Regions from separate parts of the Homo sapiens genome. Here region 2 is linked to region 1. The links come from fine-mapping of genetic effects on gene expression. A gene starts in region 1. The other region holds a variant in brackets. All regions are shown on one strand. Distances are between the middles of the regions.

Evidence for each region. PIP is the estimated chance that this variant, and not a neighbour inherited with it, causes the effect. A credible set is the group of variants that fine-mapping cannot tell apart.
Region 2: its variant is the best candidate, but not a certain one, in a credible set for the expression of ARHGAP26 in whole blood (TOPMed, PIP 0.65).

What each region holds. Positions count from the first base shown.
Region 1 is chr5:142,760,176-142,776,363 of GRCh38, forward strand. ARHGAP26 (Rho GTPase activating protein 26) reads left to right here and starts at 10,202. Exons shown (of 23, transcript NM_001135608.3): 1 at 10,202-10,740. The coding sequence starts at 10,587. LINC01844 (long intergenic non-protein coding RNA 1844) reads left to right here. Exons shown (of 4, transcript NR_110558.1): 4 at 1-818. RefSeq lists silencers at 10,006-10,415, 10,426-10,545 and an enhancer at 10,841-11,676.
Region 2 is chr5:142,977,614-142,993,801 of GRCh38, forward strand. All of the region lies in intron 11 of ARHGAP26 (Rho GTPase activating protein 26), which reads left to right. LOC107986457 (a long non-coding RNA gene) reads left to right here. Exons shown (of 2, transcript XR_001742909.3): 2 at 1-1,170. Among named protein-coding and RNA genes, the nearest start is that of ARHGAP26-AS1, 120 kb to the left of the region's middle. RefSeq lists enhancers at 4,235-5,077, 5,078-5,919. The variant C/T (reference allele first, on the strand shown) is at 8,342.

The DNA of each region.
Region 1 (16,188 bases):
AACTTGCTTGAAATTCAAAAACGTTAACTGTGGAAGGCAGTATTTGAACCCAGTGTTCAAAACCCCATGCTCTTTTTATTATATGACCTTATTTCCTATTCAGTCTTCAGAAGATATATTGTCTTATTAGATTATTCTCGTTCTCTAAATAAGTGACCTTGGGCAACTATCTTTTTCCCTGGTATTTTCCCCTGCCTTTAAAACAATGTGATCAAACTGGAAGTTTTTCACGATCTCTCTTAGCCCTAAAGCTCCTTGGTTCTGTAATTCCACCAATAGCCCATTTCAAAAATAATTCTACAGTAATCAGTGGGACTCCTGTTTTTCCCATCTTTTTTTTTTTTGAAACAGAAAATTGAAACTTTTAAATTAGTTTAGTAAATACATCTACTAGTTTTTTTCTTTTATAGTCATGGTTATATTATTTGGTCCTTCTTAGTTGCAACATGTTTCCTTGCTGTCAATTTATAATACCTCTCATCAACAATAGCCTGAAGAAATAGATTTGAATTGCTTTCCCTAATTTATAGCTGGAAAACTAGGCTACGCTGGTATCTTAAATTGACTTTCCTGAGGTCACGGGCACTCAGTGCCAAGAGGAGTTGGTACCTACGCATTTGAAATTTCTGGATTTCTGGTCTTACTCTGTACTTAGTCACTCTTTTCTTTCATTTGGCCCTATGGTGGGCAAACTACAGCCTACAGGCCAATTCCAGCCTACCATCTGTTTTTGTATGGTCCATGAACTAAGAATGGTTATCACATTTTAAAATGGTGGGAAAAAAAGACTATTTTGTGACATAAAAATTATATGAAATCCAAATTTCAGTGTCTATAAATTTTGTTGGAATATAGTTACCACACTCATTCTTTTATGCACTGTTTTTGGCTGGTTTTCTGCCTCAACAGCAGAGTTGAGTAGGTGCAACCAAGACTGTATGGCCTACAAAGCCTAAAAGTTTGTTATAGAAAAGTTTGCTGACCAACTCTATTGGTTGCTTAGTATTGCTAGGCACTCTGCAAGTCACAGGGAACACAGCAAACTAGACACATGACTGCCTTGGGCTTAAGAAGAGGTTTCTAAACTTTTGAATAAAAAACAAAACAAACAACAAACAAAGTTGGAGGGACATAAAACTTCCAAATATTAATTTTGCCAGTGGGGTTTGTTTGTTTTTTTGTTTGAGATGGAGTCTTGCTCTGTCACCCAGGCTGGAGTGCAATGGCGCGATCTCGGCTCACTGCAACCTCTGCTTCCTGGGTTCGAGCAATTTTCTTGTCTCAGCTTCCAGAGTAGCTGGGATTACAGGCACCCGCCACCACGCTTGGCTAATTTTTTTGTATTTTTAGCAGAGACGGGTCTGGTCTCGAACTCCCGACCTCAGGTGATTCGCCCAGCTCCTGGGCGTGAGCCCCAGTGGGTATTTCTTAAAAACACAGCTACTATTTTCACTCATCATTTTATTTAAAAAAGGAGTATGTTAATACAAAAAAGTATATTAATGCCAAATTTGTAGGAAGAACATAATCTCAAAAAGCACTCTTTCAAATGGAATATATTAAGCTTCATGAAAAACTTTACATGGTCATTGTTTTTCTCATTTCATTATGGATCAAAGTAAACTTTCTAGACTGGCCTATATCATCAGACCAGCTTTGGGAAGCACAGGAGTAGTTCACATTGTTACTTTTCAGGCAAAACAATCTTTAAAAATGTTTAGTCTTTATAGTGATAGAATGCTTTAGTTTGAGAATTTAACTGCTAGTAGCTTTTTTTTTTTTTTTTTTTTTTGAGATGGAGTCTCGCTCTGTATCCCAAGCTGGAGTGCAGTGGCGCGATCTCGGCTCACTGCAACTTCAGCCTCCCGGGTTCACGCTATTCTCCTGCCTCAGTCTCCCAAGTAGCTGGGACTACAGGCGCCCACCACCACGCCCGGCTAATTTTTTGTATTTTTAGTAGAGATGGGGTTTTACCATGTTAGCCAGGATGGTCTCGATCTCCTGACCTCGTGATCCACCTGCTTCAGCCTCCCAAAGTGTTGGGATTACGGGTGTGAGCCACTGCGCCCGGCCAACAGCTACTAACTTTTTAAAGTCAAAAATAGAAATATAGTGATGGGAAATTCCAGAAAAGAAATACAAAGGAAAATGGGGAAGTAAAGAAATCTGCCAATATTCACTCTCCCCTAACAGACATTGTATCCCATTCGCCCTGTGTTTAGATGGAGGATAATCCATTTTAGCATTGATTTTTCATCCTGGCTTCTCCATAGATGAAAAGAAGATCAGAATACTTTATCTATTGAAATATTGCCCTCTTCACTGCCACTAAGCCACCTTCAACAAACACATGCACTCACTAAAAACCACAGCATCATCTCAAAACCGGAGCCATCAAAAGAAATGTGAATTCCCATGGATGAAAAGCCCATCCATCAATAAGGATTCGAAGTTGGGAAGTGATAGTTTCCCACTTGCTTTAGAAAGTTTGCTAATGCTTCATGACAGACTTCCTATTTTGCAATAACTAAAATGACAGAAGACTAGAAATTATCGCTTTATCTTATATGTCCTTATTCCTGCAGTCTATGTTAGTGTTTATGTCCTAAATGCATTTTTTTTTTTTTTTTTTTGAGGCGGAGTCTCACTCTGTCACCCAGGCTGGAGTGCAGTGGCGTGATTCCGGCTCATTGCAACCTCCGCCTCCCAAGTTCAAGCAATTCTCCTGCCTCAGCCTCCTGAGTAGCTGGGATTACAGGCATGCGCCACCACGCCCAGCTAATTTTGTATTTTTAATAGAGAGGGGATTTCACTATCTTAGCCAGGCTGATCTCAAACTCCCGATCTCAAGTAATCCACCTGCCTCAGCCTCCCAAAGTGCTGGGATTACAGGCGTGAGCCACCACACCCTCCTAAATGCATTTTATAGAACACTATGCATAGGATGTAATGTTTGGGGGAAAAACAGGATTCTGTGCTCAAAGAACTACGAGAAATACTTGGTTAAGCAAAATCTCAAGGATTACTTAACACAGGATTTCTCAGGATCTATAATATGCTATTGTCCATTTAAAGCATATACTCATGTATAAGATTCAGAGGCAAGAAAGAGAGCAAGGCACATAGGAATGCTTGAGTTTAGGTTACTGAAGTGAACTAATTTATTTGGTCATTTTAGCACCAACAATTATAGAAGAATAGGCCAATTATTTTTATTGACCCAGATAATTCTGGGTCTCTGTTGAAATTGTCTTTGATAGTTTTCTGGTTTCATATCAGCTTTTGAACAGTTTATTTTTATCAATAGAGTGTCCTTTTGCTTAAATACTTTTCCTCATTTAATACATATTCCTGCCCTGTAAATGCAGATATCATCTTTTAATGTTTAAGAAATCATCCTTAAAACTATGATTTTCTAATGTGAAAACTGCCTAAGAACCATGGATTAATGCAGCTGCTGAAAATCCAAGAGGAGGTGAAACAATAGGTTTTATAATTAATGCATTATATCAACTAGAGTAGTTTTGACTTTGAGTAACAGGAAACCCCATTAATGTAGCTTAAACAAATAGGTTGTTTTTTCCCTCTTTATGTGATGAGTAGTTGGGAGGTGGGTACTCTGGAGATGGGTATTGTGGCTCGTGGGTGTCACCAAGCTACCTGGCTCCCTCTGTTTTCCCATCCAGCCATCCTTAGCATGTGATATTCATCTTCATGACTGCAAGATGGCTGCTGCTGCTCCATGCATTGCATCCACATTCAAGACAAAAAGAATAGGGAAATGAAGTAAGCAGAAGGTGTGTGTCAGCAGTTGTCTCTTTATTAAAAAAACAACAAGAACAAAAAAACACACAAACCTTTCCAAAGCCCCAGCCAATACACTTCCAAGTGTATCTCAGTGGTCAGAAAAGTGGCACATGGCCACCACCAGCTGTGTGAAAACCTAAGAAATTAAATTCTTTAGTTGGGCACATTGGGGTTCTGCTAGAAACGTAACCTAAGTCTGGAGCTAGACTACCTTTTGAGAATCTCAGCTCTGCCACTCATTAGTTATATGATTTTAGGTGATTCATTTCACTTGCCTCCCCTGTAAAGGGAGATAAGATAATAATAGGGTTGCTAAGTATTAATTGAGTTAATATTTTTAAAGTGTTTAGAACTGTATCTGGTATACAGTAAATGTTATATAAGCACTTTCAATAAATGAGTAAGGTAAAGAGTGAATATTAGGTAGAAAAGTGGCAAGCATGAAATAAATCATGAAAACTGAAAATAAAAGTATTGCTAACATGTAAAACTTGTGTAGAACAAATGCTATGAGTTTCACTAATTTCTTGAGCCAAAGAATGTTAAATAGGTGCTGCTACCTCCCTTAAAGAACTATGAGCCAGTGGCTTTATGAGGATAGATTATTCTTTTTTCTTTAAGGAAACTGAGAATTTTATGTCTGTTTCAATCAACTGCTTCTACATAAATTGTAGGGCCTGTGATTTAAAGCTAAAGCAAATTAGAGGCTTGTATAATTATTGACATATTTGGGACATACCAGCAACAAGCCCTGGAAAACCACATACAGCTCATAAGGAGCGATAATGAAATCGCTCCTCTGTCATTCATATGTGATCTCATTCAAGTTTTAGGTGTTAGGCTATTATTATTTAACAATGTTTTTAGACATATAAAATGTATTTCTATAGATATTTTATATGGATGTAGTTATTTAAGCCAGATAGATTTGAATTCTAAGTCTAGCTCTATCAGTAACTACATTAGGCATCTTACTTCTCTAAGCTTTAGTTTCCTTACCTGTAAAATGGGGATGGTAGCAGCATCTAATTCTCAGGATTGTAGTAAACATTAAATAAAGAAATGTAATAGAGTGCTTAGCACAGATCCCGTTACATAGCAAAAGCTTAATAAATATCAGCATCACTGCCATCATCATTATTTTATTATTATTATTATTTTTGAGACAGAGTCTCATTTTGTTGCCCAGGCTGGAGTGCAGTGGTGCGATATTGGCTCACTGCAACCTCTGCCTCCCAGGTTCAAGCGATTCTCCTGCCTCAGCCTTCCGAGTAGCTGGGATTACAGACGCGTGCCACTACGCCCAGACAATTTTTTGTATTTTTAGTAGAGACGGGTTTTCACCATGTTAGCCAGGATAGTCTCGATCTCCTGACCTCGTGATCCACCCTCCTTGGCCTCCCACAGTGCTGGGATTACAAGCATGAGCCACCGCGCCAGGCCCATCATCATTATTTTTTAAAATCAACCTTTAATGAGGTTTACACACAATAAAACGCACCCATGAGTTTTGACAAATGCAATGCCTGTGTAACTACCACCCTAACTGAGATATAGAACATTTACATCAACCTTAAATTGTTATTTTAAAATAGGAAAACTGGTATCTTGTCTAGTAATAATAAAAAGGAGAAGTCACTGTGCAGCACAAAATATGGCATCAACCATAAAAAAGCATGAATAAGTGCTAACTAGAATTATGGGGCCATGAGAATGTGGCAGGAGGCGCATTCATTGTGAGGGAGTTGGGGACAGGTCAAATGCACTATACATTATTGCTTCTGCCTGTGCAGCAGTGATCCCCGTTTTCCCTGTTAAATGCGCTGTGCTTGTCCTTTAGTGGAACAACTTCACCCCAGTACTTTACGTTTTTGGAGTGGGGCTGTTTTATCCTTGACTCCAGTCTTGTCATTTCTATTGGAATTCTTAGAAAACTCTCTTCCTGCTAATATTGCTGGGCGTAATTTGGAGAAGCTGAGAGAGTCACTGAGACTGAAGCCACCACAGACAAAGGTCAGCTTGGGGATGGAGAGAGAAACCTGTGCTGTTATCATCTTCTAGATCCCCAGAGGCTGCCTTGAAGCTGGATCTACCCCTGAACTTCTCAGTTACATAAGGACCCATGAATGCTTCATCACGGATCAGATCTGTTCACAAGCTGGTGTTCAGGAACCAATGTGTGACTGGTCCATGCCCACTTCTGATTATATGGACTCAGAGACAATGTACATGGGAGTGCTTTGCCAGTGGTAAAGTTTCTACAAATGGGAGGTAATTGCATGGCAGGTGTAAAGTTATTTGGACCATTGAGGCCAGAAAAAATGTAGATTTAAAATATACTGATACTGAAAGCAGAACTGTTTGAACTAATTGCTAATTTTAAGGAATTCAGACATTCATCCAAAGGATTTAGGCCAAATGTTGCCTAAATTGTTTCTCTATTTCATATGAAAGTGATTTCTGCGGCTTAACTGTTCTCTTCTATTTATGTGCATGGCCATAACTGATGTTGTCACATGAGTCCTGTTTCTTTCTTATTAAACATGTGTCCGGCTCATTGATGTTCAGCACCTTTGAAGTTCCAATTGCTGTTCTAAGCTGGGGTTGCTGCATTGAATAATACAAAATCTCTACCCTTATGAGCAGATTTTCTGGGAAGAGAAAGACAACTGCACCCTCCATGCGCCAGTTTCTGTACTGCTGCATTCTTCTTTTTTTTTGAGACAGTCTCACTCTGTCACCCAGGCTGGAGTGCAGTGGTGCGATCTCGGCTCACTGCAACCTCTGCCTCCCAAGTTCAAGCGATTCTCCAGTCTCAGCCTCCCAAGTAGCTGGGACTACAGGCATTCACCACCACACCCGGCTAATTTTTTTACTTTTAGTAGAGACGGGGTTTCACCATGTTGGGCAGCCTGGTCTCGAACTCCTGACCTCAAGTAATCTGCCTGCCTAGGCCTCCCAAAGTGCTGGGATTACAGGCTTGGGCCACCACACCCAGCCTGTACTGCTGCATTCTGATTCTCTCTTTCTAGTAATACTGCTGAAAGTGTGGGAGGTTTTTTGTGGAAATTCCATATTAAATTTATGAGAAATTTACACATTATTCACATATTTACATATTTGTCTGTGAATGGGCATATTAAGTTATATGTTTGTGCCACATAGAATTATTAATATTATCTCGGTAAGCTGGTTCAAGTTACAACTCTGGGCCTCAATTTCTTATCTGAAAAAATGGGAACTATCATAGTACCAGTCTCACCCTGTAGGGATTATATGCATGTAAATAATTTTTTTGTTTGTTTTTTGAGACAGAGTCTCTCTCCGTCACCCAGGCTGGAGTGCAGTGGCACGACCTCAGCTCACTGCAAACTCTGCCTCCTGGGCTCAAGCAATTCTTGTGTCTCAGCTTCCTGAGTAGCTGGGATTAAAGGCGTGTGCCACTATGCCAGCTATAAATGCATGTAAATAATTTACCATAGTGCCTGGCATAAACTGAGAGCTTAACAAATGATAGCTGATATATTATTGTTGTTATTATTAATACATATATATTATTTTACACACATTTGCCTACTATTCCTCAATGGGATAAAACAAATAATTGTGGATCACATTTTATTTCATTCATTTAGCATGTATTGAATGTTACCATTTATGCTGGGCCCACTGTGGCAGATTATGTTTTTCAGAAATAGCTACTATAATATCTCCCATTCTTGTCATTCCCCCATCAAGAGGTACAGTCTAATCTCCTTCCTTTGAAGCTGGGTGGGCTTATGAGTTGCTTGTAGCCAATGAAGGTGGTAGAAGTATGTGGCTTCCAAGTGATTCAGGGCAGGCAAGGCCCAAAATTGCAGCTTAGCCCAGGAGGCTTCTTGGCTTTGCCCAGAAAAGAATTCAAGGGCAAGCCAGTGGTAAGAGAAAGCAACTTTCATTGAATCAGTGCTGCTCCTTGTGGAACAGGGCTATCCCATAGGGAGTGTGCTCAGGATGGGCAGTGTACAGGGCTGTTGGCAGCTGTACCTATACCTACCTTTAATTATATGCTAATTAAGAGGTGGGTTATTTAGAACTTTCTGGAAAGGAGGCAGGGAGTTTCCAGAACCATATAAGGTAACTTCCAGGCCATTGCCATGGCCTGTTGCAATGGCATTTGTAAACTGTCATGGCAATGGTGGGAGTGTCTCTATGCTAATGAGCAGTGAGGGCAACTAAAAGTGTCTTTTTTCCTTGCCTGCTGGTTTCTGCTGGCTGCTTCACTGAATCCCGTTTGGAATGAATCCTGGTTTGATCAGTGGGGTTGTGATTGGAAAACAAGTCCTGCAGGCCTCTCACCTCACAAGGCTAGGTCATAAAAGGTGATGCACCTTTCTCCTTGTGAGCTGTATATGTTCACACTGGAGCCTTAAGGCTGCCATACTGGGAGGAAGCCTAAACTGGGCCACAGAGAAAGGCCATATGGAGAAGCCCTGAGTCTACCTGAAAAGTGGGATGCCCAGCTAACCATCCACTCCTCCAGCTCCTGTCACCATCCAACTGCAATCACATGAGAGACCTCAAGCCTTTGGCTTCCCTAAATTTCTAACCCACAGAGATTGTGAGAGAAAATAAAATGATTGCTGTTGTCTTAAACCATTAACTTTTGGTATCATTTATTCTGTATTAATAGATAACCAGAACACCTACCTTTAGGTGCTCAAGATAAAGCATTAAACAGATTTACTTTCATAGGGTTTCCATTCTAGATCTTTCTCATCTTTGGCAAGTGAAGAACAATTGTTTTTGGGTTGTAATTATCTATCAGATAGCTGTCTGGACCTGCTATCAAGTCTAAATTTGTAGATACACCTATCAAAGAGATCACATTCACTTATTTATACATTTACTTATTTATTTTACAATTTTTTGTAGAGATGGGGGGGGTCTCGCTGTGTTGCCCAAGATGGTCTTGAACTCTTGACCCCAAGCAATCCTCTCACCTGGCCTCCAAAAGTTATGGATTACAGGTGTGAGCCACCATGCTCCATTTATGAATTTAATACATTAATTGCTTTCTTAATATAGATGGGACACCTCTGACCCCTCCTGAGTGAAAAATCCATGTTCCCAAGCACCCAGGCCTTCTATCCTATCACAAGGCATGGTTATCGCTTGTTTGCTTCCATCTCACCTAATACCACCAGCAGCTAAATTCATTCTGTTATTCATCTTTGTATTCTTACCATCTAGGCTAGTGCCTGCACATAGCAGACCTATTTAAAAAACAAACCAACCCAAACAAACATGAAGCCCCCACGTAGCTGAAGGAGGGCTGCTGGTTCCTAGACATAGAGATAATTTATTCAAGGACAGTCCCTATCCTCCAGGAGTTAACAATTCAGCACTAGACACCCTGTGGGACCCAGCCTGACAAGTGCAACGAGTGAGATGCCAGAATTGAGTCCTGCGGTCGAACAGAGGGACTACAGGGCAACGCACTGGGCGTGGGAGGTGGAGATGGCTCTGGGAAAGGATCCATTCATTTATTCTACATTTATCAATCACCGTAGCACACACAGCACATAGTAAGTGCTCAATATCTGTTATTAAATGCCAGCCACTGTGCTAGGTGCCAGGATGCAACAGCGGACAAGAAAATTGCAGGGGCACTTGCCCTCGTGGGGCTTACCGTGTAGCGAAGGATGACAGGCAGTAGACTGTCATCTTATTATGTAAAATTGTGCTAGATGCAGAGCAGGAAAATAACAGGCGGCTGAAATTCTAGTAATGATGTGAGCTCCTTCGGCTGAGGGGAACCGTGGGCGGGTTCTGAGCAGGAGTGGCCGTGAGGGGGACGGACCGTAGGGGGCGGGAAGACTGCAGGCAAGAGCTGGTAATTTTAAGATGCAAATAACATTTTTCTGCCTGACTGGAAGAGGAGCGTTTGGTCGCTCGGGATTCTCCCGGAGCAGGGGGCTGTATTTTGAGTGTAAAATCGGTTGCCCCGCAGTGCAGGGCAGGCGGTGGTGAACTGCAGCCCTAGTCCCCAGGTTTTTCATGCTTGGCACATCGAGGCTCTTCGGCCCCCAGGACCAGCAGACTCGCCATGCGTGGCTCGGATTCGGGCTGGAGCAGGCGGGCAAGGTAGCGGGGGCGGGTGCACAGCAACGCTCACCCCTAGGTTTCGGGGTCTGCAACGCTGGGAGGGCAAGAGGAGGCGGAGTTTGCGCTGCGGACCTAGGCGTTGGCGAGGGCCACGCCCCCAGCCGCAGACCCTGCCTCCAGGCCCCTTTGATTGGATCAAGACCGCGGAAGGGCCGGGCGTCCTCGGGCGGCCTGAGGGTCGGGCAGGGGAGGGTGCGCTGATTGGCCCGGCGGGGATTAAGTCATCGCTAGCAGGTTCGAGCGGCCCAGACACCGGCGGGGCGGCCGAGGCTGCTGTGAGAGGGCGCTCGAGGCTGCCGAGAGCTAGCTAGCGAAGGAGGCGGGGAGGCGGCGTCTGCACTCGCTCGCCCGCTCGCTCGCTTCCCGGCGCCGCTGCGGGTCCGCGCTGCGTTTCCTGCTCGCGATCCGCTCCGTTGCCCGCGCCCGGAACAGCAGCACCTCGGCCGGGTCCGAGCTCGGTTCGGGAGTCTTGCGCGCCGGCGGACACCGCGCGCGGAGTGAGCCAGCGCCACACCTGTGGAGCCGGCGGCCGTCGGGGGAGCCGGCCGGGGTCCCGCCGCGTGAGTGCTCTGGGCGGCGGGCGGCCCGGGCCCCGGCGGAGGCGCGCCCCCCGGCTGGGCGCCGCGCGCACCATGGGGCTCCCAGCGCTCGAGTTCAGCGACTGCTGCCTCGATAGTCCGCACTTCCGAGAGACGCTCAAGTCGCACGAAGCAGAGCTGGACAAGACCAACAAATTCATCAAGGAGCTCATCAAGGACGGGAAGTCACTCATAAGCGCGCTCAAGAGTGAGTGTCCCGAGCCCCTCGGGGACGCGGCTCCGGGGCGGGAGGAACTGGGAGGTGGCGCTTAGCCCGGGTTGCCCGCGCGTCTGCCGGGTTTCTGCTCCCGGTACACTGGGGGACGGGTGTCGACGCCTCCGAGGCAGGAAGGATACGTAAAGCGGGCGAACCAGCAACCATCAGATGAAGAGAGAGACCCGTCGCTCCGCCTTTTGCGTTCAGGGATGGTCGGGAGGTGACCCAGCGCGGGTGGTGCTCTGGGGCAGCGCGGGTGGGCGTGGGCGTGCGCGGCACGCAGGTGTCCCAGCAGTGGGGCCAGAGTGCCGAGCGCGCCGCAGCCAGCGGGCAGATCCCATCGTGTCCACAGCTCCAGCTCCCTTAGGGGCAGAGTTGCTCAGCCTTGAGTGCCCAACCGTGAGAATGGAGCGTGCCCTGCCGAGGGGGCGCTGCCTCCCCTTGGGAAAAGGTGGGTTGTGACTGCTTCGCTCCCTGTACGCAGCTCCAGCCTAGTCAGGCCGCCGGGTTCCCTGGGTGGAATGCTTGGTTAGCTTGCGATTCCTTGGAGTATTGGCAGCCAGTAATCTCTAAATCTGGAATCAGTACGTGCGCAGGTTCTGATTCTTGTGTTTAGCAGAAGGTGATAGGGGTGGGAGTAGAGAATCAGAGTGTTCCTTTACTCTAAACTGTGGGCGAGGGTTTAAAAATAGAATGTACATATCCCAACTCTCTCCCTCTCCTGCTCCCAAGCTCTCCTTTTTACCTCTTCCGTTATCCTTGTAAAGGTCTGAGAAGGAATATCCATAATTCTCAGAAAGAAGTTCAAACGTATTTCAAAGATTCTTGGACCTTTTGTAAAACCATTTTTGCGTTTTTTCCTTTTGGTACAAGGGGAGAGATGCAATTTTGCATTCTGCTTCACTTTTGCAGAGCCAGAGAGTTTCTTTTTCTGGCCAAATAAGCGTGCTCTAGGGATGAGTGCTTTGGATTGTGAGAACGTTTTTGGTGCCTTTTCAGTCTCCCCATTTAAAAATAGCTCAGTCCATCTTTTAGTTTTAAGAATCAGGAACCACATGAAGGCAGATAGTGGAATTGTCTCTGACTCTGTTACTGTATCTGTTTCTGTGATGGATTTCTTAGTAGGTGATACCTTTCAGCTAAGAAATCTTGCCTTAGCAGAGTAGAGTCGTAGCTGTGGGAATTGTTCCCAGGCCTCTTTAAAGGGCACTTACAAAAGTCAGGTGCCTGAGATGTCATTTTGTCAGCTTGTTGCTTCTAAAAATGAAGAGAGAGACAATGGAATGCCAGGGCAGCCCAAAGTGCCAATCTTTTGGGATGAAATGAACACAGGACTGTGATGTGATGAGGCTTCTTAGAGGCAGATTCTTAGGCTGTGCCTTACCTGAAACATATGAACAGACCCTTCCTTTGTCAATAATCAAGGCCATTCTTGGTTTAGGGGATGGGGGTCCCTGGTTTGGAGTAAGTTAGGGGCCCACTTACAGGTTGGGCCCAGGAATTTTGATTGAACCTCAGGCTGGCTTTAGTGAGTTCTCTGCTTCACTCAGCAAACTTTTGGTGTGATTGTGGTGTACTGGGTACTGCACTGGGCACTAAGGGTGTAGGAGTGAATATTTTGCTGCTCCTGTGCTTACAGAGGTGTACTTCATTCCAGGCACTGCTTCACATATAATTATCTCATGTGCTTAGATTCATTCTGCAAATGAGAAAACAGAGACTGGGGGAAGCATTACCTCTGAGTCACACAGCTCTAGCAGCAGGACCAGAGCTTTTGAATCCACCTGGTTTGAGCCAGAGATGGAGTCCCTGCCAGTGCAGAGCTCTTGACTTCTGCCCCATCTCACTTGCCCGGAATGGAACCTCTTGCACCAAGCCCTAGAATTTGGACTTGTGTTTTCTATTTTGGCATTGAATCTGAGGAGGGTGCGTTTGGGTGACTGGCAGTTTTCCTACCACTAGTTTTTGGGGGCAAGAATTCTTTGGTAGGAAGAAACATTGCAGTGATAGAGTTGAAGTGTTATTTAAGCTGTCTAATGGAATGGATCAGCCCTGTAATCTGGAGGAAAGACTGATGGGGATCTCGGTGTTCTGTTCTCTCTACGTCCAGCTCTGCTAATGTATTCTACCACTACTAACTACTACTTGATCAGGTCAGGTGACCTCTAAAAATAGAGGGTGGAGTCAACCATTGTGTCCTGGATTTCAGACATTCCGATATCATGAGATGCTTGCTGCGTGGTATACTACTATATTAATGTTTGTGTATTATTTTTCTTCAGTCATGTTTATTATATCTATAAACAGAAGTGTTTTCCCAGTACAACTTAAACATAAATACATAATTATATAAACACTGGGTTTAGATAATCTATGTTCTCTTATAGCTCTAAACTTTTGTGGCTTTATTTTATAGCCATATTTTATTTTATTTTACAGTTATTTTATAACTAGTATTTCTAGCTCTTTGGATTTAACTTGGTTTTGAGTGTTAATCATAGGCAATAAAACTGTCCTCTAGGGATTGCCAAAGTTCAGGTAGATCATTGTTACTATTACTTCCACTTTATGAATGAGATGCTGGCAATGGAGATGCAAATTCTTTATAGATCTAGATCCCGTAAAGGAGAAACATGCAGCAGGTGCTTGATTAAGTGAAAACATTGCCAGTTGTTTTTTAGACTCCGAGCCCTGGGTAGCAAAGACCAGCTAAGATTTTGTATTATCCTCTGAAGTTTTGGAGTTCTTTCTCCATCACGGGCTTTGAAGGCTAGAGGGACAGATGAGAGTGGCTGAATATGTCTTGGCTTTGTAAAGCAGCAGAGTTTCTTTTGGGGGTAGCACTGAATGATTATCAGTGATTGTCTTTTCACTGAGTAATATAGCATTGAACAGAGAGGCCAAAAACCTGTTCTTGGTGTGATTCAGTAAGGTAAGTAAGTGGTTCATCCTCTTTGCCTTTCAAAGCAAGAGTAAAAAGGTCAGCACTGAGTTACATGCTTTAAAGCCTGTCACCCTTTTGTACTTGTTAGAATTAAACGTGGGCATTTTGCAATACATAAGCGCTTCTTGAATGGCATAAACTCTCAAAGGATGTTCGATGCCAACCTGCTTTGTTTAGGAGTAATTATGTTACTCAGAAAATCCTAATGGAACAAATGGATGTGGAGTTGGGTAGCAAAATATTTTCCCCAGATCCTTTGCTTTGCTTCAGTACCTTGTGAATAAAGAAAATCAAAGGCATTTCCTAATTATTTGTAAATGGTAGTAATTGACATTTTGAATATTACTCATACAAACATAAATGACAGCAAATTAAATTCAAACAAATTTTTATAGTTTTTATATAACATTGGCTGAAAAACATCCCTTCATTTTACTCCATTCTGTGTTCTTAGTTGGACTGAAAAAATTTGCATCCAGTCTGTAGTTCTCAATTCATTGACTTTGGCTTAAACCCTCCTTCCCTGCACTTAAATCATTAATGGACTTTTTTTTTTTTTTAAGAGCAGTTTTAGATTCACAGAAAAATTGAGTGGGAAGTGTAGAAAGTTCCCACATAGCGCCTCATACCTGTCCCTTCCAGTTGCCCCTATTTCTAACATCCTGCATTAGCATAGTACAGTTGTTATAGTTGATGAACCAATATCAATATAACATTATTAACTAAAGTCCATAATTTACATTAGGGCTCACTCTTTGTGTTGTACATTCTGTGGATTTTGACAAATGTATAATGACATATAAACACCATCATAGTAACATACAGAATACTTTCACTACCCTAAAAATCCTATGTGCTCCACCTATTCATCCCTCCCTCCCCACTAACCCCGGGCAACCACTAATCTTTTTACTGTCTCTCTAGTTTTACCTTTTCCAGAATGTCATGTAGTTGGAATTAAACAGTATGTGGCCTTTGCAGATTGGCTTTTTTTCACTTAGCAATGTGTACTGAAGGTTCTTTCATGTCCTCTTATGGCTGGGTAGCTCATTTCTTTTTATTGCTGAATAATATTCTGTTATCTAGATGTGCCATAGTTTATCCTTTCATCTATTGAAGGACATTTTGGTCGTTTCCAAGTTTTATCAATTATGAATAGAGCCGATATAAACATTTGCGTGCAGTTTATATGTGGAAATAAGTTTTTAACTCATTTGGGTAAATACCAAGGAGTATAATTGTTAGATTATATAGTAATGTATATATATATAAAATAAAATAGTACGTGTAGTTTTTTTTAAGAACTGTCAAACCGGCTTTCAAACTGATTATACTGTTTTGCATTCTCACCAGCAATGAATGAGAGTTCCTGTTGCTCTACATTCTGCTCAGCACTTGGTTTTGTCTGTGTTTTGGATTTTGACCATCCTACTAGGTGTGTAGTGGTATCTCATTTTAAAAAATTTAGCTATTTCCTTATGACATATGATGTTTGGCATCTTTTCATATTGCTTTCTTGCCATCTGCATATCTTCTTTGGTGAGGGGTCTTCAGATCTTTTGCCCATTTTTATTTGGGTTATTTCTCTTTGTCGAGGTTTGTTTGTTGTAAAATATACATAACACAACGGTTACCACTTTAGTCATTTTTAAGTATATAATGCAGTGGTTTTCAGCATGTTCACCATGTTGTATAATTACTATCTCTTTCGAGAACATTTTCATAATCTCAAACTGGAACTCTGTTCCCATTAAACAATAACTCCCCACTTTCCCCTCCCCCAACCCTAGTAACCTCTATTCTGCTGTCTGTATGAATTTACCTATTCTGTGTACTTCTTATGAGTGGAATTATACAATATTTGTCATAAATATCTGGCTTATTTCACTTAGCAAAATATTTTCAAGGTTCATCCATGTTAATAGCATGTGTTAGGATTTCATTTCTCTTCATGGCTAAATATCTTATTGTTGAGTTTTAATTATCAACAGCTGTCATTAGGAAAGACTATTCTTTCTCTTTTAAAGTCATAAAAATGTATTTTTTTCTTTCCATTTCGTTTCCCTTCAGTATGATCACTAACACTTGGAATTGACATACCAATTGATCATGGTTGTCTCTCACAAGAACACTATATTTATATTTATTCCTTTCAAAGCAGTTACTTGCTTCAGGTCAGCATGTTTTTGGGGGAATTTTTCATAAAAGGTTAATTGAATTATAATTTACATTCCATAAAATTCACCTTTTAAGATTTTATTTTTTATTGTTTTTATTATTTGTGGAGATGGGGGTCTCACTTTGTTGTTGCCCAGGCTGGTCTCGAACTCCTGGTCTCAGGTGATCCTCCCGTCTTGGCCTCCCAAAGTGCTGCGATTACAGGCATGAACCACGGCTCCTAGCCACTCACTTTTCTTAAGTGTATAATTCAGTGGTTTGTAGTTACAGAGTTATGCAACCATCATCCTAGTCCTGTTTTAGAACATTTTTAGCAC
Region 2 (16,188 bases), 220 kb after region 1:
AGGAGGCAACCTTTGTGTGCTCAGCTTCTTCCAAAGCAGCTGTCTCTAGAAGTTGCTAGCCATCTCCTGGTTAAGAAAGAAGATGGAAGGTGGTAGGGAGAGGAAGCAAAAACATTTCACACTGCCTCCCCAAAGACAGATCTGTTATCCTGCCTTGACCACAAAAATTCACGGAGGAAGTCAGTGAGTCAGAGATGCGCCAGGGTGTAAGTTGTCAGCACAGTTCAGCGAGCTCTGGTATCTTGTGTTTCTCTGTTCGTACCACTACTGCTTTCCTTCCTGGCTACATTCACCAGCATGAAGAAACTGGAGCAGCACCTTGAGAGGTTTCATCAGCCCATGGCTGGGATGGTTGACAGATCACTTGCAAAGCCATGGGAAAAGGACCTGGTTCCTCTTGACTCCTCTGACTTATTTTCAGTGATCCGACATCTTGAAAATATTTTCCATTTCACTCCTAGGTTCTTGTAGGCCTTCCCACAATGAGCACATTCAGTCTTAAAAATTTTTTTTCTGCTTTAATTGGCGTGGGGTCGGATCGCTTCTCCTTGGGTCTTAACTGTATTCAGAGGGGCTTAGGGTTTGCCCAAGGCCTCAAAGGCCATGAGTGGTAGGTCATGGTCAAAGCATGTCCTCTTTCCTCAATAGCAGTGTTGGCCTAAATTCATTCTCCACTTCTTCGACTCTCTTTCTCTTGGGTGATGAGGAGGTATGAGATAATGTGTGAGAAATCCTTGGCCATCTTTGGAGTGAGGGGCTCTGTCTATGTACCTGTGTCCCCATCCAGAAAATACATAGCCAGGGTTGGCTGGTGCTGCTCTCATCATTGACATAACCAATCTGAAACTGGAAACCGAAGCACCAGTATAGAATGGTGGCCAAGAGGGTGGTCTGGTTTCAGACAACCTGGGTTGAATTTAGGTCCCATCCCTGACTACTTAGAATAATTTTATGCCCCAGATTCTTACCTGTTAAATGGGGATGATTTTAACACTGACTTCATAGAGTTCTCAGTGCATTTGAATGAGATAATCCATTGAAATCAATTGGCATGATACTTTCCACCTCTTGAACACCCTATAAATGTTATTATTATCTTAATCCTGGAGCTTTATGTCAAGAAAGGAGTTTGCCTTTTTTTTTTTTTTTTTTGTAAAAATTGAAAATTTTCAAGATAAAAAATTGGGGGAAAATATAAAGAAGCATAATGGATGATATAATGGCCAGTCATGTCTCACCAGTCAGCTTCATCAAATCTTGACACTTTACCACATTTATTTTTGAAAAAGGAATTAAAGCATTGCTGATTCATATCCTCTGATAAAGCAATGCTAGGGTAAAGGAAAAAGGAGGCGAAACTGTTTAAAACAAAAGTGACTTAAGACACCTAATGAAATGCAATGTGTGGACTTGGGTTGGGACTTGATTTAACCAAAGCAATTATACAAAGACCTTTTTGAGGCCATTATGGAAATCTCAATGTGGGCTGCCTATCAGATGATATCAAGGAATTATTAATTTTGCTAGGTTTGATAATACCATGGTGAAGATGAAAAAAACGTTATTAGCTTAAAGAAGATAGGAATTTGTAGGAGAGAAGTTTGTCTTTTTAATGTTTCTACTTTCTGCCTCCTTAATAAATAACAGTGTTACCTTGGCAGTTTCATCTGGGCGTTGTTTCTCTCCTCTCTATATCATCCCCCAAGTCTACTGAATTTTGAGGTCCCAGCTGGTGTCAGAGTTTTGCTCTGCAATTGCTTTTTTCTGGCTCAGTCTGTGTGTCCAGTTGGAGTGAGTCTGCTCAGAAAGTGGATTCTTCCACCTTGGGAACCCTGTGCATCCAGAGACTATGGGACATATTCCTTTTGACTCAATGTTTCACTTGGGATCTGGCAAACATAGACGTATCTCTTGAGGGCTAGGAGTGCCACTGATGGGGCCACATTATCAATCCCTGCAGAAGAAAACAGCAGGAACAGGCTGATGGCTTGTGAAATATTTTTCAAATTTCTTCCATACACAATCAAGGAAAAAGGAAAATGCAGAAGTGGAGGCCCCAGCTTCTGTTCTGGCTGTATTGTTTGCCTTCCAGGCAAAGAGAGTATTTGTGTGAGAATTAAGGGAAAGTGTCTCACTGTGAGCCCAATCCCAGAAGGTAATTCCATATGAAGTTTATTCTCTGCAGGCACTGTTGTGGGCGTGCCAGAGGGGAGGGCGGAGTATGGGAGGTGGGCAGACAGCACTTCCTGCCTACTATAAATCCCTGGCCAGCAGCTGGAAACTCCGGAGTGAGGCCTTCAGAGAGGAATGTCACCTGGAGTGGATAATGCTTGTTGTCACTTTCAAGCCAAATTTATAAATATGTGATCACCAACCAGATCAAGATGTAGAACATTTCCAGCATCCCAGAAGGCTCCCTAGTGCACTCAGTCAATACCTTCCTCGCTCCCCTTCTCCCTCCAGGTAACCACTCTTCTGACTTATATTGCCATTGATTAGTTTCCCTGTTCTTGGTGCTTCATGTAAATGGAAACATATACCATCTACTCTTTGTGTGTGGCTCCTTTTATGCAGTATAATACCTGTGAGACTCATCCATGTTTCCATGTAGCAGTAGTTTGTTCTGATTGTTGTAGAAAGCATTTCGTTGTACAGAACATATCACTAATTATTCATTCTTCGATTGAACAATGGATTGTTTGTAAATTTGAGCTATTGTGCATAAAGCCTCTAGGAACCTTTATTTTATTTTATTTTATTTTATTTTATTTTATTTTATTTTATTTTATTTTTGAGATGGAATCTTGCTTAGTTGCCCAGGCTGGAGTGCGGTGGTGCGATCTAGGCTCACTGCAACCTCCGTTTCCTGGGTTTAAGCAATTCTCCTACCTCAGCCTCCTGAGTGGCTGGGATTACAGGTGCCCACCACCACACCCAGCTGATTTTTGCATTTTTAGTAAAGATGGGGTTTCACCATGTTGGCCAGGCTGGTCTCGAACTCCTGACCTCAGGCAATCTGCCTGCCTTGGCCTCCCAAAGTGCTGGGATTACAGGTGTGAGCCACCTCACCCTGTCTGGAATGTTCTTCTACAGGTGTTTTGAGGCCATAAGTACTTATCTCTTGAGTATATTCCTGGGAGTGGGATTGTTGGATCATAAGGGACACAAATCTTTACCTTAGTAAATATTGCCACATAGTCTTGCAAAGAGGTTGTACCCATTTTCATACCCACCAGCAATGTGTGAGGGTTTCAATTGTTCCATGCCCTCACCTATGCTTGGAATTATCCATCTTTTTAGTTGTAACCATTCTAGGGCATGTGTGTATCGTAGTAGTAGTTGTCATTGTCGTTGTAGTGTCACACTTGGTGTTTATTTTCATTTCCTGGGTGAGTAATGATGTTTGGATATCTTTTGAGAAATACCAGTACCATCTTTTGGCCATGTTTTCATTGCAAATGTATCCTTTTTATAAAGGTGATTATGAACATCAAAAGTCATCATGGAAAGAAAAATGCAGATAGAGAGGCTGCATGTGGCAGCAGTATCAGCTGGTTAGTGATAAAGAACATAGGCTTTGCTGCCCGACAGCAGGAGTTCAAGTCCCAACCTTGCTACCCACTAGTATGGTATTAATTCACTTTCTAATCTTATTTCCTAAACCGTAAAATGGGGATAATAACAGTGTCTATCTCACCAGTGTGCTGGGAGGATTCAATGAGACATGCATCCTTAAAATACCTCTCTGTGAAGCAACTTGGGCCACATGAACAGAGCATTAACAACACACAAACACAAAATGTAGTCTAAATGCCCTGGTGGTCTTTCTTGAGCCATGCAGGCACCTTCCTCTGCCTCCCTATATTCAGAAGTGATAAGGCCATGAGCTACCCTCATGATTTGGTTTCCTAAATCTGTAAAGTCTGCTTTATTAGCTAGGGTGCAAGTTAGTATTTGGAACGTTTTTTGAAGCCATGAGTGTGCTCTTGATAGTCATTATTATTATAAGCAGCAGCTTGGCTCCTTTCCTGCAGAGCAGAATTATCTTCAATCAAATGACCTTTCTGTATACTTTCTACTTTAAAGGATTAATTGCGTCTTCCTTCCTGTCTCCCTCTTCACTTCTCCAGAACGCTCAGCCCAAAACCAAACTGGAGTTGCCTTTGTCCCTAAGTGGTGTCGTGGTACCACCACACCCAAAGCCTGGCTCAGAATGAATTCAGCACCCATTCCTTGCTTTTTAAACCTCAAAAGTTCCCGACTCAGTGAAAGGCTTCCATTTTGCTATCCTCTTCTCTGTCTGCATTTTACTCTGTAATTTATTGACATAGAAGAGGCCTCGTGCAGGCTTTCATTGCATTAGTCCACTTGGAAGTCTTTTCTCCAATCCATTTGACCTCAAGCTGCTTTTTTGCTGCTGCTGCATGTAAGCTAGACTGATCCAGCTCACCTTATGCTGCTTTTGAAGGCTGAAAAGCCCTGTGACCAAATGTTTAGCAGGCTGTTCAGACAGTGGACTGATGGTTTGATCTAAGTCCGTTTCCTGCCTTACACACACCTCCCCATCCCCCAAGGCAAAGGTGGAAAACCCAGCAAGTTACATAAGTTGTTGGAGCAGTCCAGATGGCTGGCTGCTAGCCCAGGCAAACTCGCTTTGGAGCACTTGGGGATGCCTGCACTGGCAATGAAACATGGGCTCATTTTTTAATGAGAACAATCATTTTGTTCAGCTGTATGAATCCCAGTAGTGGAGTGAGATCAGGGCTGTGATCCCCTAAACATGGCTGCTGGCTTCCCTCTGGGGCAGGACAGGGGGTGTCTTGTAGTGGGAGGGTGTCTTGTCCTACTGTTTGGACTTTACTAAACAGGAAGGAGCGGGCAGGGCTGCAGAACAGGAATTATACCATTGTACAGCCTGGCAGTCCTGTGGAATTGGCTGAATAGCGGAAGGAAGGAATCTGAAAAGGAAGGGAAGGATCTCACCACCCAGTGTGAGCCAATTCCAGCCTCGCTATTTTATCTGCCCAGTGACTGATCTTAGCCTTTTGTTGTATACCTTTCTTCTTGAGAGGTTTTGAAATGGTATGCATTCCTTAGCTTTGAGGCACCATGTGGCTGCAGTTAGTCAGACTAGCTCCAAATCACAAGCTTGGATTGTTGAACCTGTTTTTTCTGGAGTGGGAGGAAGATGGACCAGAAATTGATGTGAGGCCCTGGGATCTTCAGTCCAGGTGGCCATGGGTATGGCTTACAGGATGGTCATCTCTAGGTCTGACTTTCCCTGTGTGTTGTCCTGATGTGACCAGGAAGCAGCTGTCCAAGTTGCCTGTCCACCTCTGATAGCACATGCAGCCTTGCATCTGGGGTTGGTGGTTATTTCGTGCAGGTGACCTGAGAGCTGCCTGGGATTGCTGTGCTTGCCCAGCCCGCCACAAGGGGTTGCCCTTTGTTGGCTGGTGGTGTGGAGGAGGACAGGTCCCCTGACTGCCGGCTACTCCAGTGCATCTGAAATGGAGACACCTGTATGTCTGTGATCTCTGAGCCTTATCTTCCCTTGCTACCCCACGGTGAATTAGACCTAAAGATGCTATGCTGGTTCGTTGTTTTTTTTTGAGATGGAGTCTCACTCTGTCACCTGACTGGAGTACAGTGGCGCAATCTCTGCTCATTGCAACCTCCACCTCCCGGGTTCAAGCGACCCTCCTGCCTCAGCCTTGTGAGTATCTGGAACTACAGGCATGTGCCACCACACCTGGCTAATTTTGTATTACTAGTAGAGACAGGTTTACACCATGTTGGCCAGGCTGGTCTTGAACTCCTGACCTCAAGTGATCTGCCCTCCTCGGCCTCTCAAAGTGCTGGGATTACAGGCGTGAGCCTCCACGACCAGCCTGGTCCTTTGTTTCTATTGTTTTCAAAATGGTCTGAGAAATAGGAAAAATCCCAAAGTCTATAGAACATAGATATAAAGGTACAGAAAAGAGAATGCAGATTTTCACGCATTTTTACATCGAAAAAATAAACTATATTTTTTGACTGAAAGAATAACATAGAGTAACAAACAGTAGAAAATGTGGAAAATAACTAAAAAGATGAAGAGGAAAATGAATATCACTCATCTTAGAAAACAGTGGTTAATTTATGATATTTGTGTTTTCAACTCTTTTCTATCATTATGTGTTTATATATATCTAGACACACATCTATTCATATATAAACAAAACATGCATCCCTTTCCAGGTATTGTACTTTAAGTAGGATTTTCATTTAATTTTTTATATTTTCTCATGTCTGTCAGTTTAGCAGTGAGTTTTGCTGCAAACAATTGAAAATCCAACAAACAATGGCTTAAAGTAAGTTTTAGGCATTAATATATATGATAGGCCACATGGGACAAATAGGGTGGCTCTGTGAAGCCATTAAAGACCCAGCTTCATTGTGTCTTTTTACTCCTCCTTAGAGTGAGGAGGATCCTTTAGGATGTAGGCTTTTGTCTTCCTTGTAGGCTGCTGCACCTCCTGGCCTCACATCTGTGGTTCAGGCAGGGAGAAGGAAGGCAGGAAGAGGAAGGAGTGGTGTCTATGTCAGCAAAACAAAGGTTTGCCAGAAATCGCCTGTATATATCCACTTATGTCTCATTGACCAGAACTGTGTCATATTCCTAAGAGGAGTGTGTGTTTTCAGCTGGGTAAAATCTTGCTCCCACATATCAAGGGTCTGATTAAGGAAGAAAAGGAAACAGACATTGTACAGTCCATTAGCAGTAGCTGTCACACTTGTTTCTAAATACTATTCTACAACCAGAAGTGTTGAGTGACTTAGAAACTCCTTTGATGAAAGAAGAAATAATATTAAGAAAATTGTGAACACTTTCCTCAGAGAAGTATATAATTTGTAACATTTTGTATATAAGAAACAGATCTGTGCATTCATCTCTCAGTGGGCTGCTATACATGATTCTTTTCTTAGCGTAATGCATAGAAGTAGATTTGCTTGATGAACATATACAGTCACACACCATATAAAGATGTTTCAGTCAATGACAGACCACACATACCACTGTGGTCCCATAAGATTATAATGGAGCTAAAAAATTCCTATCTCTTAGTGCTGTTGTAGCCGTCATATTACTGCAACACATCATTCATGTGTTTGTGGTGATGCTGGTGTAAACAAACCTACCATGCTCTCAGTCATACAAAAGTAGAGCACATGCAATACTTGATAATAAATGACTGTGTTACTAGTTTATGTATTTACTACAGTCTGCTTTTTATTGTTATTTTAAAGTGTACCCCTTCTACTTATTAAAAAAAAAAGCGGTCAGACAGCCTTAAACAAGACCTTCAGGCGGTATTCCAGAAGAATGCATTGTTATCATAGACGACAGCTCTATGTGTGTTACTGCTCCTGAAGACCTTACAGTGGGACAAGATGTGGAGGTGGAAGACAGTGATGTGGATGATCCTGACCCTGTGTAGGCCTAGGCTAATGTTTGTGTTTGCGTCTTGGTTTTTTAACAAAAATAGCTTAAAAAGGAAAATAATAATAATAAATACAAAAAAAACTTGTTGAATAAGGAAAAAATACTTTTGTACAGCTGTACAATGTGTTTGTGTTTTAAGCTAAATGTTATTACAAGAATCAAAAAGTTAAAAAAAATTAAAAAGGTTGTAAAGTTACAGTAAACTAAGGTTAATTTATTATTGAAGAAGAACACTTTAAATAACTTTAGTGTAGCCTAAGTGTACAGTGTTTATAAAGTCTACAGTATTGTGCAGTAATATCTTAGGCCTTCATGTTCACCCACTAATCACTCATTGACTCTCCCAGAGCAACTTCCAGTCCTGTAAGCTCCATTCATGGTAAGCACTTTATACAGGAATACCACTTTTTATCTTTTTTTTTTTAATTTAAGTTCTAGGGTACATGTGCACAACGTGCAGGTTTGTTACATATGTATACATGTGCCATGTTGGTGTGCTGCACCCATTAACTTGTCATTTACATTAGGTATATCTCCTAATGCTATCCCTCCCCCCTCCCCCCCACCCTACAACAGGCCCTGGTGTGTGATGTTCCTCACCCTGTGTCCAAGTGTTCTCATTGTTCAATTCCCACCTATGAGTGAGAACATGCAGTGTTTGGTTTTCTGTCCTTGCGATAGTTTGCTGAGAATGATTGTTTCCAGCTTCATCCATGTCCCTACAAAGGACACCAACTCATCCTTTTTTATGGCTGCATAGTATTCCATGGTGTATATGTGCCACATTTTTTAAATCCAGTCTATCATTGATGGGCATTTGGGTTGGTTCCAAGTCTTTGTTATTGTGAATAGTGC[C/T]GCAATAAACATACGTGTGTATGTGTTTTTATAGCAGCATGATTTATAATTCCTTTGGTATATACCCAGTAATGGGATGGCTGGGTCAAATGGTATTTCTAGTTCTAGATCCTTGAGGAATTGCCACACTGTCTTCCACAATAGTTGAACTAGTTTACAGTCCCACCAACAGCGTAAAAGTGTTCCTATTTCTCCACATCCTCTGCAGCACCTGTTGTTTCCTGACTTTTTAATGATCGCCATTCTAACTGGTGTGAGATGGTATCTCATTGTGGTTTTGATTTGCATTTCTCTGATGGCCAGTGATGATGAGCATTTTTTCATGTGTCTGTTGGCTGCATAAATGTCTTCTTTTGAGAAGTGTCTGTTCATATTCTTTGCCCACTTTTTGATGGGGTTGTTTGATTTTTTTCTTGTAAATTTGTTTAAGTTCTTTGTAGATTCTGGATATTAGCCCTTTGTCAGATGGGTAGATTGTAAAAGTTCTCTCCCATTCTGTAGGTTGCCTGCTCACTCTTATGATAGTTCTCTTTTGCTGTGCAGAAGCTCTTTAATTAGATCCCATTTGTCAATTTTGGCTTTTGTTGCTATTGCTTTTGGTGTTTTAGTCATGAAATCCTTGCCCATGCCTATGTCCTGAATGGTATTGGCTAGGTTTTCTTCTAGGGTTTTTATGGATTTAGGTCCAACATTTAAGTCTTTAATCCATCTTGAATTAATGTTTGTATAAGGTGTAAGGAAGGGATCCAGTTTCAGCTTTCTATATATGGCTAGCCAGTTTTCCCAGCACCATTTATTAAATAGGGAATCCTTTCCCCATTGCTTGTTTTTCTCAGGTTTGTCAAAGATCAGATGGTTGTAGATGTGTGGTATTATTTCTGAGGGCTCTGTTCTGTTCAATTGGTCTGTATCTCTGTTTTGGTACCAGTACCATGCTGTTTGGTTACTGTAGCTTTGTGGTATAGTTTGAAATCAGGTAGTGTGATGCCTCAAGCTTTGTTCTTTTGGCTTAGGATTGTTTTGGCAATGCGGCTCTTTTTTGGTTCCATATGAACTTTAGGGTAGTTTTTTCCAATTCTGTGAAGAAAGTCATTGGTGGGGATGGCATTGAATCTGTAAATTACCTTGGGCGGTATGGCCATTTTCACGATATTGATTCTTCCTATCCATGAGCATAGAATGTTCTTCCATTTGTTTGTGTCCTCTTTTATTTCGTTGAGCAGTGGTTTGTAGTTCTCCTTGAAGAGGTCCTTCACGTCCCTTGTAAGTTGGATTCCTAGGTATTTTATTCTCTTTGAAGCAATTGTGAATGGGAGTTCACTCATGATTTGGCTCTCTGTTTGCCTGTTATTGGTGTATAGGAATGCTTGTGATTTTTGCACATTGATTTTGTATCCTGAGACTTTGCTGAAGTTGCTTATCAGCTTAAGGAGATTTTGGGCTGAGAGGATGGGGTTTTCTAAATATACAATCATGTCATCTGCAAACAGGGACAATTTGACTTCCTCTTTTCCTAATTCAATACCTTTTATTTCTTTCTCCTGCCTGATTGCCCTGGCCAGAACTTCCAACACTATGTTGAATAGGAGTGGTGAGAGAGGGCATCCCTGTCTTGTGCCAGTTTTCAAAGGGAATGCTTCCAGTTTTTGCCCATTCAGTATGATATTGGCTGTGGGTTTGTCATAAATAGCTCTTATTATTTTGAGATATGTCCCATCAATACCTAGTTTATTGAGAGTTTTTAGCATGAAGAGCTGTTGAATTTTGTCAAAGGCCTTTTCTGTATCTATTGAGATAATCATGTGGTTTTTGTCTTTGGTTCTGTTTATATGCTGGATTACATTTATTGATTTGTGTGTATTGAACCAGCCTTGCATCCCAGGGATGAAGCCCACTTGATCGTGGTAGATAAGCTTTTTGATGTGCTGCTGGATTCGGTTTGCCAGTATTTTATTGAGGATTTTAGCATTGATATTCATCAGGGATATTGGCCTAAAATACTTTTTTGTATGTGTCTCTGCCAGGCTTTGGTATCAGGATGATGCTGGCCTCATAAAATGAGTTAGGGAGGATTCCCTCTTTTTCTATTGATTGGAATGGTTTCAGAAGGAATGGTACCACCTCCTCTTTGTACCTCTGGTAGAATTTGGCTGTGAATCCGTCTGATCCTGGACGTTTTTTGGTTGGTAGGCTATTATTGCCTCAATTTCAGAGCCTGTTATTGGTCTATTCAGGGATTCAACTTCTTCCTGGTTTAGTCTTGGGAGGGTGTATGTGTCGTGGAATTTATCCATTTCTTCTAGATTTTCTAGTTTATTTGCATAGAGGTGTTTATAGTATTCTCTGATGGTAGTTTGTATTTCTGTGGGATTGGTGGTGATATCCCCTTTATCATTTTTTATTGTTTCTAGTTTATTCTTCTCTCTTTTCTTCTTTATTAGTCTTGCTAGTGGTCTATCAAGTTTTTTGATCTTTTCAAAAAACTAGCTGCTGGATTCATTGATTTTTTGAAGGGTTTTTTGTGTCTCTGTCTCCTCCAGTTCTGCTCTGATCTTAGTTATTTCTTGCCTTCTGCTAGCTTTTGAATGTGTTTGCTTTTGCTTCTCTAGTTCTTTTAATTATGATGTTAGGGTGTCAATTTTAGATCTTTCCTTCTTTCTCTTGTGGGCGTTTAGTGCTATAAGTTTCACTCTACACACAGCTTTAAATGTGTCCCAGAGATTCTGGTATGTTGTGTCTTTGTTCTCATTGGTTTCAAAGAACATCTTTATTTCTGCTTTCATTTCGTTATGTACCCAGTAGTCATTCAGGAGCAGGTTGTTCAGTTTCCCTGTAGTTGAGCGGTTTTGAGTGAGTTTCTTAATCCTGAGTTCTAGTTTGATTGCATTGTGGTCTGAGAGACAGTTTGTTATCATTTCTGTTCTTTTACATTTGCTGAGGAGTGCTTTACTTCCAACTATGTGGTTAATTTTGGAATAAGTGTCGTCTGGTGCTGAGAAGAATGTATATTCTGTTGATTTGGGGTGGAGAATTCTGTAAATGTCTTTTAGGTCTGCTTGGTGCAGAGCTGAGTTCAATTCCTGGATATCCTTTTTAACTTTCTGCCTCGTTGATCTGTCTAATGTTGACAGTGGTGTGTTAAATTCTCCCATTATTATTGTGTGGGAGTGTAAGTCTCTTTGTAGGTCTCTAAGGACTTGCTTTATGAATCTGGTTGCTCCTGTATTGGGTGCATATATATTTAGGATAATTAGCTCTTCTTGTTGAATTGATCCCTTTACCATTATGTAATGGCCTTCTTTGTCTCTTTTGATCTTTGTTGGTTTAAAGTCTGTTTTATCAGAGACTAGGATTGCAACTCCTGCTTTTTTTTGTTTTCCATTTGCTTGGTAGATCTTCCTCCATCCCTTTATTTTGAGCCTATGTGATGGGTCTCCTGAATACAGCACACTGATGGGTCTTGACTCTTTATCCAGTTTGCAAGTCTGTGTCTTTTAATTGGAGCATTTAGCCCATTTACATTTAAGGTTAATATTGTTATGCATGAATTTGATCCTATCATGATGATGTTAGCTGGTTATTTTGCTCGTTAGTTGATACAGTTTCTTCCTAGCATCAATGGTCTTTACAATTTGGCATGTTTTTGCAGTGGCTGGTATTGTTGCTTCCTTCAGGAGCTCTTGTAGGGCAGGCCTGGTGGTGACAAAATCTCTCAGCATTTGCTTGTCTGTAAAAGATTTTATTTCTCCTTCACTTATGAAGCTTAGTTTGGCTGGATATGAAATTCTGGGTTGAAAATTCTTTTCTTTAAGAATGTTGAATATTGGCCCCCACTCTTCTGACTTGTAGAGTTTCTGCCGAGAGATCCGCTGTTAGTCTGACGGGCTTCCCTTTGTGGATAACCCGACCTTTCTCTCTGGCTGCCCTTAGCATTTTTTCCTTCATTTCAGCTTTGGTGAATCTGACAATTATGTGTCTTGGAGTCGCTTTTCTCGAGCAGTATCTTTGTGGCTTTCTCTGTATTTCCTGAATTTGAATGTTGGCCTGCCTTTCTAGGTTGGGGAAGTTCTCCTGGATAATATCCTGCAGAGTGTTTTCCAGCTTGGTTCCATTCTCCCCATCACTTTCAGGTACACCAATCAGATGTAGATTTGGTCTTTTCACATAGTCCCACATTTCTTGGAGGATTTGTTCGTTTCTTTTTACTCTTTTTTCTCTAAACTTCTCTTCTCGCTTCATTTCATTCATTTGATCTTCAATCACTGATACCCTTTCTTCCACTTGATCAAATCGGCTACTGAAGCTTGTGATTGCGTCATGTAGTTCTTGTGCCGTGGTTTTCAGCTCCATCCGGTCATTTAAGGTCTTCTCTACACAGTTTATTCTAGTTAGCTATTTGTCTAATCTTTTTTCAAGGTTTTTAGCTTCTTTGTGATGGGTTCGAGCATCCTCCTTTAACTCAGAGAAGTTTATTCTTACCGATCATCTCAAGCCTTCTTCTCTCAACTTGTCAAAGTCATTCTCCGTCTAGCTTTGTTCCACTGCTGGTGAGGAGCTGCATTCCTTGGGAGGAGAAGAGATGCTCTGATTTTTAGAATTTTCAGCTTTTCTGCTCTGGTTTCTCCCCATCTTTGTGGTTTTATCTACTTTTGGTCTTTGATGATGGTGACGTACAGATGGGGTTTTGGTGTGGATGTCCTTTCTGTTTGTTAGTTTTCCTTCTAACAGTTAGGACTCTCAGCTGCAGGTCTGTTGGGGTTCGCTGGAGGTCCACTCCAGACCCTGTTTGCCTGAGTATCACCAGTGGAGGCTGCAGAACAGCAAATATTGCAGAACAGCAAATGTTGCTTCCTGATCCTTCCTCTGGAAGCTTCATCTCAGAGGGGCATCTGGCTGTATCAGTTGTCAGTCGGCCCCTACTGAGTGGTGTCTCCCAGTTAGGCTACTCGGGGGTCAGGGACCCACTTGAGGAGGCAGTCTGTCCATTCTCAGATCTCAAACTCCGTGTTGGGAGAACCACTACTCTCTTCAAAGCTGTCAGATAGGGATGTTTAAGTCTGCAGAAGTTTCTGCTGCCTTTTTTTCAGCTATTCCCTGCCCCCAGAGGTGGAGTCTACAAAGGCAGGCAGGCATCCTTGTGCTGCGGTGGGCTCCACCCAGTTCGAGCTTCCTGGCCGCTTTGTTTACCTACTCAAGCCTCAGCAAAGGTGGATGCCCCTCCCCCAGCCTTGCTGCCGCCTTGCAGTTCGATCTCAGACTGCTGTGCTAGTGGTGAGCAAGGCTCCGTGGGCGTGGGACCCTCTGAGCCATGTGCAGGATATAATCTCCTGGTGTGCCGTTTGCTAAGACCTTTGGAAAAGCGCAGTATTAGGGTGGGAGTGTCTCGATTTTCCAGGTACCATCTGTCACAGCTTCCCTTGGCCAGGAAAGGGAATTCCCTGTCCCCTTGCACTTCCCAGGTAAGGTGATGCCTTGCCCTGCTTAGGCTCACACTCCATGGGCTGCACCCACTGTCCAACAAGCCCCACTGAGATGAACCCACTACCTCAGCTGGAAATGCCGAAATCACCTGTCTTCTGCGTCACTCACACTGGGAGCTGTAGACTGGAGCTGTTCCTATTTGGCCATCTTGGAACCTCCCCCACTTTTTATCTTTATACCATATTTTTACTGTACGTTTTCTATGTTTAGATATGTTTAGATACAGAAATACTATTGTGTGTCAGTTGCCTACAGTATTCAGTATGGTAACATGCTGTATAGGTTTATCTCCTAGGAACAATAGGCTACACCATATAGCCTAGTTGTGTAGTAGGCTATACCATCTAGGTTTGTGTAAGTGCACTCTATGATGTTTGTAGGGCAACAAAATTGCCTAACAACGCATTTCTCAGAACATATCCCTGTCATTAAGTGAGGCATGACTGTATATTTATCTTTGAAGCTTGCTCTTCATGAAGACTGTGCCAATTTATACTTCCATGAGTTGCATATGGGAATATCCATTTCCCTGAGCCTACATCTATACTAGTTGCTACCAAAGTTTAAGAAAATTCTTAACTTTTTCAAAAAGTAAAACATATTATCATTGTTATAATTAGGACTTTTTTTTGTTTTTGAATATTCCCTATGGTTATTGAATTCTTTTTCTCCTTTTGCAATTAGTTTATCCTTTGTACATTTTTTTTCTTTTGGTGTATTCACCTTTGAGTGTTAATTACTCTTTCTGTATTAAGGCTGTGAGATACTTTATGCATCCTATCTTTGTTTGAATGGATTCCCATAATAAGATAAATATTTACCTGAGATTTGTTTTGGCATCAAGATGTAAGGTGAAGACCAACCTTGATTTTATTCCTCCAAATGATTTTTATTATCTTAACACTATTGAATAATTAACTATTTCACAACTGATTCGAAAGGCTCCAAGATGATTTAAGAAGTGCAGCAGTGATTTTTTATTTATTTATTTTATTTTATTTTTTATTTTTTTTTTTGAGAGGGAGTCTTGCCCTGTCACCTAGGCTGGAGTGCAGTGGCGTAATCTCTGCTCACTGCAACCTCCTGGGTTCACGTCATTCTCCCGCCTCAGCCTCCCAAGTAGCTGGGACTACAGGTACCCGCCACCATGCCCGGCTAATTTTTTGTATATTTAGTAGAGAAGGGGTTTCACCATGTTAGCCAGGATGGTCTCGATCTCCTGACCTCGTGATCCGCCTGCCTCGCCTCCCAAAGTGCTAGCATTACAGGCATGAGTCACCACGCCTGGCCAGTAGTGATTTTTTAAAGCACATAGGGTATGCAAAGATCAGCTGCCATACAGAGACCATATGAATTGTCATCCAAGACATTGTTATTTTCATAGCTGACACTGCTGGGTTCTGTGCCTCGCCTGATGCGGACTGCTTAACCTTCTTGGGGTGAGCACAACTGTAAGTGAGCAATTTAATACTTAAAATGCTGCTAGACAGATGGCAATTTACTCTTTCCATATTTGAAGAGCTTCCTGAGTCCTAAGTTCTTTATTTTTATTTTTATTTTTTTTGAGATGGAGTCTCACTCTTTCGCCCAGGCTGGAGTGCAGTGGCGGGATCTCGGCTCACTGCAACCTCCACCTCCCAGGTTCAAGCAATTCTCCTGCCTCAGCTTCCTGAGTAGCTGGGTTACAGGTGCCCACCACCATGCCCGGGTAATTTTTGTGTGGTTTTTTTTTTTTTTTTTTTTTTGAGACGGAGTCTCGCTCTGTCGCCCAGGCCGGACTGCGGACTGCAGTGGCGCAATCTCGGCTCACTGCAAGCTCCGCTTCCCGGGTTCACGCCATTCTCCTGCCTCAGCCTCCCGAGTAGCTGGGACTACAGGCGCCCGCCACCGCGCCCGGCTAATTTTTTGTATTTTTAGTAGAGATGGGGTTTCACCTTGTTAGCCAGGATGGTCTCGATCTCCTGACCTCATGATCCACCTGCCTCGGCCTCCCAAAGTGCTGGGATTGCAGGTGTGAGCCACCACGCCCGGCCCAATTTTTGTGTTTTTAATAAAGATGGGGTTTCACCATGTTGGCCAGGCTGGTCTCGAATTCCTGACCTCAGGTGATCCACCTACCTTGGCTTCCCAAAGTGCTGGGATTATAGGTGTGAGCCACCATGCCCAGCCCTAAATTCATTTTTAATTACAAACTAGATTGTTGATTTTTTTTCTTTTTTTTGAGACAGGGCCTCGCTCTGTCACCCAGACTGGAGTGCCATGGCATCATGATCACAGCACATTGCAGCCCCAACCTCTTGGGGTCAAGCTATCCTACTGCTTCAGCCTTCCTCCTAAGTAGCTAGGACTACAGGTGCATGCCATCA